Homo sapiens: one gene and its partner. The protein of the gene in region 1 purifies or fractionates together with the protein of each later gene. This does not show direct contact. Each region holds a gene or a part of one and is shown on either strand. Other genes may lie near its edges. The genes, in order: FAM78A and ADD1.

Evidence for each region.
Region 2: the proteins of FAM78A (region 1) and ADD1 purify together in Homo sapiens (affinity purification with mass spectrometry, with the first as the bait; one large-scale study listed by BioGRID). This does not show direct contact.

Annotation. Positions count from the first base shown.
Region 1 is NC_000009.12:131,274,233-131,278,140, reverse strand, and holds the start of FAM78A (protein FAM78A), read left to right. Parts: upstream 1-1,630; 5' UTR 1,631-1,961; coding exon 1,962-2,284; intron 2,285-3,908.
Region 2 is NC_000004.12:2,899,046-2,902,853, forward strand, and holds part of ADD1 (alpha-adducin), read left to right. Parts: intron 1-213; coding exon 214-390; intron 391-3,808. UniProt on the Homo sapiens protein: Membrane-cytoskeleton-associated protein that promotes the assembly of the spectrin-actin network. Binds to calmodulin.

The DNA of each region.
Region 1 (3,908 bases):
TACCAGGGGGAGGGCGGGCTGTGTGCGGGGAGCGAGGGTGGAGAGCCAGGCGGGCGGGGAGGAGGAGGCGGCGCCCGCCCGCCGCCGCCGCCGCCGCCTGCGGACCTGCATCCCCGCGGGGCCGGCGAGCGGGCGGCGGTCCCTGCGTGCGCCGGCTGCGCTCGGCCGGCGGCGGCGGCGAGCGGACGCGGGGGCCGGGCCGGCGCAGGGGCCGAGTTTCTGCAAAGTTTGACCCGGTTGCCTTTCCGATGCTGCAGCAGAGCGAGGCAGCGCGGGGCGCGCCAGGCGGCAGCGGCGCGGCGGCGGGGCTGAGCGGCGACAGCGCGCTCACAATGATCATAAAATAAAGGAGGCGCGCGGGGTGGGGGCGAGAGAGCCCCGAGCCTCAGCCCTCCGCCCCCGGCCGCCCCCCCGAAGCCCCAAGCCGGGAGGAGGGTGGGGGCCGGGGGCGCCCACGCCGGCCCCAGACTCCAGTAGAGCCAAGGGACAGTGCCCGGGGAAGGGGGTGGGGGCGCCCCAAGAACGTGCCCGCGGCCGGGTCAGGGGCGTCCGGAGAGCGGCTGCCCGGGCCAGCGGAGTGGCCCCCGGGGCAGGTGAGTCGGCGGCGCCGCCCGAGTGGGGGCGTGCGCGCCAAAGTTCCCCGGCAGCGGCGAGCGCGCCCGACGCGTGGGGACCCGGGGCTGCTCGCGGCTGGAGAGGGGCGACAGAGGCGCTTGACGCGGCGGAGCGGGGGCACTATGCCCTCCGAGGGCCGAGGGACCCCAGCCGGGAAAGGGGTGCCCGCCGGATCCGACGGCACTGGTGGGTGGCCCTGCGCCCAGGGAGCCGGAGGGACCGGGGTGGGGAAGGGGCACCTGGCGCTGGCGGCGCGGCGGTGGGGACAGAGCAGGGCAAGTGCTCGCCGCCCCCTGCAGCGGCAGCCGCTCGCCCCCCACCCCGCCCGTCCGGGACGGTATCAGCGGAGATGTCACGGGCGGCTATTATTCGCTGGTGCGCGCGGTCGTGCGGCCGCCACTGACGGGGCGGGCGCGGGGGGCGGGGGCCACCGCCTCCGGGGAGACCGCCCAGAGCTGCGCCGTCAGCTCCGCAGCCCGCGCCCAGCGCACACGCGTCGCCGCCCCCGCGCGCCCCCCGCAGCAAAGTTCGGCTTAACTTTGAGGCTGGCCTTGACGCGCTGTCCCTTCCACCTCCCACCAGGTCCTCGGCGGCCGCGGCGAAGCAGGCGGCGGCGGCCGGAGCGCAGCCCCGGGACCCTGCACGGCGGCCGGCAGCGACAGCGGCGAAGGGACGCGGCGCCCCTGCGTGGGGACGTCCGGCCCGCGCCCGCGAGTGGGCGCCGACGGGGACCCGCGCCGCGCTCCCCCGTCACCGGCGAGCGGCCGGAGCCCTGAGCTCGCCTCCTGGAAGCCGCGGGTCGGCGCTCGCCCCGAGGGCGCCGGGACCTCGGCCGGGTGAACACAAACTGCTCTGCAATTGATTCGACCGCGCCGGGCGGGTGCGGGTGCGGGGCCCGGAGGGAGCGCGTGCGGAAGGCCGGAGGGCAGGAAGTCAGGCTTCTGCCGCGAGGGTGGCGCGGCCGCGCGGGGACAGAGCCTTCCTTATTTATGAGTCTGCCGGCGCTCGCCTGCTTCCTCCGAAGACTTCAGGGAGAGTCTGCGAGCTGCCGTCCCCGCGTGTGAGGCACAGAAGGGCTGGATGTCAGAACCGCATAATTATTCATTAAACTACAAACTTTTTTTAACCCAAAGAATATCGGTGATTTTTGTCCACTGCGAGGAGAAGAAGAGAGAGCCCAGGGCTCATGAAATGCAGCAGAATCCTTATTTATAAACAGGCCGCGGTAGTGATATATGCAACCCCAGTCTACTCAGTGAGTTTTCTATCCTATGGATATCGGTCTTGAGAGTTGAGATTGGAGAGCAGCGCCGTCTGTACTGGGTCCTGCAGCCTCTGTCCTTTCAATGCCTGGTTTTTTCTGTGACTGCTGGCCTTCCCTGGAGATCAGAGCGCTCCTGTATGCCATGGGCTGTATTCAGAGCATCGGAGGCAAAGCCAGAGTCTTCCGGGAAGGGATCACGGTGATTGATGTGAAAGCCTCCATCGACCCCGTCCCCACTAGCATCGATGAGTCCTCCAGCGTGGTGCTCCGCTACCGGACACCCCACTTCCGGGCCTCGGCCCAGGTGGTCATGCCGCCCATCCCCAAGAAGGAGACTTGGGTAGTTGGCTGGATCCAGGCGTGCAGCCACATGGAGTTCTACAACCAGTACGGCGAGCAGGGCATGTGAGTACGGCCGAGAGCCAGCTCTGGGAACTGCTAGGGATGGCCGAGCTTGGAGGCCTGGTGGGGGGCCGCGGATAGGGGGAAGGTGGAGATACCATGAAGACAGGACGGAGGCCAGAGGGAAGCTTTAGGCAGGTATGCAGGTGGCCTCATTGGCCCGGTGGCTCCCTGAAAAGTTTGCCTGTGGATCCAGATTGGAGTCACGGTCCTGCAATCTACCCTGCCACTGTTCCCCCCGGGTTCCTGTGTCCTTCCCTGCAAGATGCCGAGAAAGCAGAGAGACATTACTCCCAGTGTTTCCTGGCAGAGCAAGTGTGCCGTCCGCCTGAGGAGTGTCTGTGCCATCAGGGGTCACCAGAGAGGCTGCAGGGCTGCCCTCCAGGCCTCTGGCCCTGTGCGGGCCCATGGCAGACATTCAGGCACTCTGCAACTCCCAGACCGGTGTGTTCAGGGCTTTGCGATTGGGCCTCAATTATCTTTCTGGCTTTTACCAGTGTATGCCAGGAGCTGGGGGAGTGCTTCCCCGTTCCAAACGGCACTGTGTTTGAGAGCACAGTTAGTTTTAGAAGCCCGATTTCTTCACAGTGTATCGCTTTCTGTCTCCAAGGCAGAAGACCGCTTTATGCAGACAAGTCCAGTGTCCCTCTGGCGAGGCCCTAACAGGAACAGCAAAGAGGAGCCTCTCCTCTGCAGCCCCAAAGCCCGGTCTCCAGAGTGTGCCTAGGGTATTGGGGGTCCCGGTGAGGACCCTGGGACCCTGGGGCTCCTTTCCTGGCCTGCTTCCTGACCCCAGAGAAGGCCGTCCCCAGGGTGAAAAGAGCTGCATTTAGGCAGAGTTGGGAGAGTGACTTAATCTGAAGGTTCACCCTAAGACAGGGATGGTGAAAATAGCTGTTTCTGAGCGTAAGGACCCTTTGGAGAGAGCTAGGCAGGCCCCGGCGGGCAGCCCACCCATGCGGCCCCGTGACTGGCCGCTGACACTCCCAGAACCTCTCTCAGTGTCTACCCTGTGGCCCCGTGACTGGCCGCTGACACTCCCAGAGCCTCTCTCAGTGTCTACCCTGTGCAGCTTCACGTCCCCGTTTTGCAAGTGGGGAAAAGAGGAGAATTTCCCCAGGAGCTGGAACTTATCACAGATTTAAGAATCTCATGGGCCACCTGTAAATGAGAGGGGTGGAGGATGGCGGGACACCAAGTCTGGTGGCTTCTCTACTTAATGACTCCAAAGTTCTAAAGGAAACATGAGGATCACAGTAACCCTTAAGTCCAGCGTGTGACAGTGACTGTCCCAAAGAGGTACATGGGGGGCACATCTAGAGGCTCTCACCGGCCCTCTCCACCAGCCTGATTTCTGTGCCAACCCCTTTGTGTCTCAAGAGCAGCTAGTAATCCAGTTCGGGGGAGGGGGTGCTGCCTTTCTGTTCTAAGCAGGGAAACATGATTCTTAGTTATGCAGTGAGGACCTTTTCTAAGAACGCTTAAGCCCAGAAACCTCCTCGGGCTTTGAAGGCATCGGGACAGTTGTAGAAACAAAAGTTTTCCTCGGGGTTTTGGGCTAAGCCTAGTTTCTTCCCTGGAAGGGGTAAGGAAGCCAGTGGGTTCTTCTGAACTTGGAAAGACATGA
Region 2 (3,808 bases), on another chromosome or scaffold:
TCTCTGCCAACTTTGGTGCCCAATATTTTTGTCATGCTAAAGAAATACTTCTGAAAGTAACTTTGTGATCAGTCTGTCACTATCCATTCTACATTTTTTATTCTTACACTCTAGAGATTTGGTTTCTTTTGAAACCTACATTTTTATTCAAGTCATCTGACCCTCTTGATCTCAGTAAGGAACTCAAGCCATGCTGTGTGTGTTTTGGAAAAGGTTCGAACTCTGGCCAGTGCAGGAGGACCAGACAACTTAGTCCTGCTGAATCCTGAGAAGTACAAAGCCAAGTCCCGTTCCCCAGGGTCTCCGGTAGGGGAAGGCACTGGATCGCCTCCCAAGTGGCAGATTGGTGAGCAGGAATTTGAAGCCCTCATGCGGATGCTCGATAATCTGGTAAGAATGGTGCCACCACTTGATGATAAACCTTTTGTTCTAAAAGCATCAGTGTTGGTGTTCTTACAGCAAGTGCGATTGCTGTCTTTTATGCAGTATCTGAATACCTTCACCTTCAAAGTCATGAAGAAGCACTAGGGTTGTTTAACTTCTGAGGTAAATTACAATAAAATGTAGAGGTGAAGGATTCCTGGTATTGTTTTATTTTTTAAAGATAACCTTGTGTTTGGACTCAGTGGGGACAAGAGCACAGAGAATGCGTAGGCAGCTGGATGACCAGCTGTGTCAGCTCAGTCCCCACCATCCCACAAGCAAGCGAGAGAGGTGGCACTTTTGAAATCGGTCAGTCAGGTATTTAGGCTTTTGTCTTAACAGCAAATCCTGGCTGTCTGGGGCCTGATGACTGTGTTCCATGGGTATCCACTCCCTGTCCACAGCGTGGGAGCCCCTCAGCTGCTTATTGCAGGGACACAGAGCCCGGCATGGTCCAGAAGGCGGGCTTATGGGGCCTGCAGCACACAGGGAAAGTGAGCCCACACTGTGATAGGAGGGCAGACACACAGGATGTGTTCTGTGTTACAGGGTTGCCGTGAAGAATTTCATTCTTTTGCAAGGACTGGAGAGAAAATTTTATGTGGAAGGTAGCCCTTGGAAATGACCTCAAAGAATAGGTAGGATCTTAGCCTGCGTTTGAAAGCCTGGAAAAAAACAGGATGACAGGATGAAGAGGCCACAGCACAGCTGCAGACAATGGGAGTGGGGAGATGGGAACATGCAACGTACGGTGCACCTTTCAGGTTCATCTTGACTTTACCAGGATCATTAAATACTCAGTTCTTAGAGCTGTATTAGAACACTGCCCTTGGGGTCTCAGTCCCGCAGCCACATCATCAGACACAGGGCTCTGGAACAGATCCCTTCCATGCTGCACATCAGACCTCTTAGATGGGGGTCACGATGGTCCGTCCTAACGCCACATGACCTCAAGTGGTGTAGATGTGAGGACATGTCAGTGTGGGGAAAGAAGGCCTCAGAGGGGCCAGTATCCTTGTATGCTGCCAGCCAGTACTGGACAAGTGGGCACGTTCCAGCCTAAGACAGGCGTGGCCCTTGGACCAGATCACAGATGAGATGGGTGGCTTCAGGAAGCAGGGTGGCTTCAGGAGGCAGGAAGTTTAACTTTCCTGAAGGTTTGGAATAAAAAGTATTCATAGGTCTGATTCAGGCTATGTTAAATGTTCTTACTGAAATTCTTTGCACTTGGGATGAATATTGTCCGCTAGAAAGGAGGAACTGAGGGTTTTCTGCCTGGGCGCGATAGTCAGTCAGTGGAGTAGACTCAATCAGTGACACAGGGACGAACAGAGAAGGCAGAGTCTAGCGTAACTTTTTGAGTTCATATAATCAGTGAGGTTGATTGCATTAATTGACTGTCTACTGTTGAGTCATGAACAGGACACAGTTCTTGCCCTCAGGAGTTTATGACCTAATAAGAGAGATGGACAAACGATTCCCAAATGAGCCCTGCCCCTGTGATCTGTGCAGTCATAGGCATGATGAGAGCTTGCAGGCAGAGGTGGGTGCCGATTGGTCAAGGAGGTAGGAAGAGGAGCAAAAGCTCATGAAGAAGGCTGAAGAAGCAGTTAGAGTTGGGTGGCCAGCCAGGGTAGTGAAGCTGCAGGGACTCATAGATGGAGAAAGCTTGAGAGTGGGGCAGCCATGGCCCAGGTGTGCGTCAGGAGCCAGGTCATCCAGCATGGCTGTGCAAGGTAAGGAGGGCTGAGGTTGGCCCAGTCACACAGCCCCTGCCTCCTGGTAAATACGGCGACATTTTGCTGCTCTTCTACTTACAGTCAGTGTGAGGGAGGAGAGAGGGGGGTCAGAATGCACAGCAGCCACCAAAGACTGTGCTGAAAGCACATCCTAGAAGGCGGAGAGGGGGAAGTCAAAATCAGGTAGAAACTCTGATTTGGTAGGGAAGGAAGATAAGGATGAATGATTAATAAGTAAAACATTCATTACAAAAAGCATGATGAATGTTTACTCAGTGTCCTTAATGTGTACAGATTGTTTTAATATTAGAAGGCCATATAGTTTATAAGAAATAAACTAGACAGCAATCACTAATCATAGTCCATGTTTTAATTTAGCATCGGGGTTGGCATATATGTTGTTTGCTAATAACTGAGTAGAGAATAGTTGCCAATTTCCACACTATAATATATGTTGCAGCCGAGCACAGTGGCTCACTCCTGTGATCCCAGCACTTCAGGAGGCTGAGGTGGGAGACCAGGAGCTTAAGACCAGCCTGGGCAACATAGCGAGATTCCTCTCCACAAAAAATAAAAAAATTTCAAAAAGAGAGATAATATTTCATTTGAACTTCTACAGTTAGAAAAAAAATGCTAAATTGTCCCCCCCCCAAAAAAAATCAAGATATAATTTCAGTTTCTCAAAGAAGGAACAAATCCATATATATTTTCTCTTTCTTTTTTTTTTTGGAGAGACAGGATGTCATCATGTTGCCTAGGCTGGTGTTGAACTCCTGGGCTGAAGCAGTCCTCCCACCTCAGCCTCCCAAAGTGCTAGGATTATGGGTGTAAACTACCACGCCTGACCCAAATCCATGTTTTTAACTACAAGCCAGATAGTAGTTCTGAGGTCTGAGTATTACTTCTGGTTTTGGTTTAACAGCATTTAAAGGGGAAGAATAAAGAAAAATCCATATGGTTTCAGGATAAAATGATGTTGATGAGTCCTGGGTGGTTTATTCTGAAGTTGTGGAGATTACTGAGTTCTGGCTCTTTAAGCAAAAGGAAACTTGAATTAATAAGAACTGTGTTTTTCTGCAGATAGTCTTTATGGCAGAGTCATTCTCTTTTATTATTCCTCAACAAAGCATGCTCAGAAATGGGAAAACTGCCAGTACACACATTTACCTTATCTTTCTGAGGACAATTATGAAAATAAAACCCAAAACAACTCCATTCATGATTGTTATTACCTTTTTAAAAAAATGTAGGCCGGTCACGATGGCTGATGCCTGTCATCCCAGCACTTTGGGAGGCCAAGGCAGGTGGATCACCTGAAGTCAGGAGTTCAAGACCAGCCTGGCCAACATGGTGAAACCCCTTCTCTACAAAAATTAGCCAGGTGTGGTGGAGGGTGCCTGTAATCCCAGCTACTCGGGAGGCTGAGGTAGAAGAAGCACTTGAACCCGGGAGGCAGAGGTTGCAGTGAGCCAAGGTCGAGCCACAGCACTTCAGCCTGGGTGACAGAGCAAGACTCCATCTCAAAAAAATAAAAGGAGGCCGGGCGTGGTGGCTCATATCTATAATCCCAGCACTTTGGGAGGCTGAGGCAGGTGGGTCATGAGGTCAGGAGATTGAGACCGTCCTGGCTAATACAGTGAAACTCC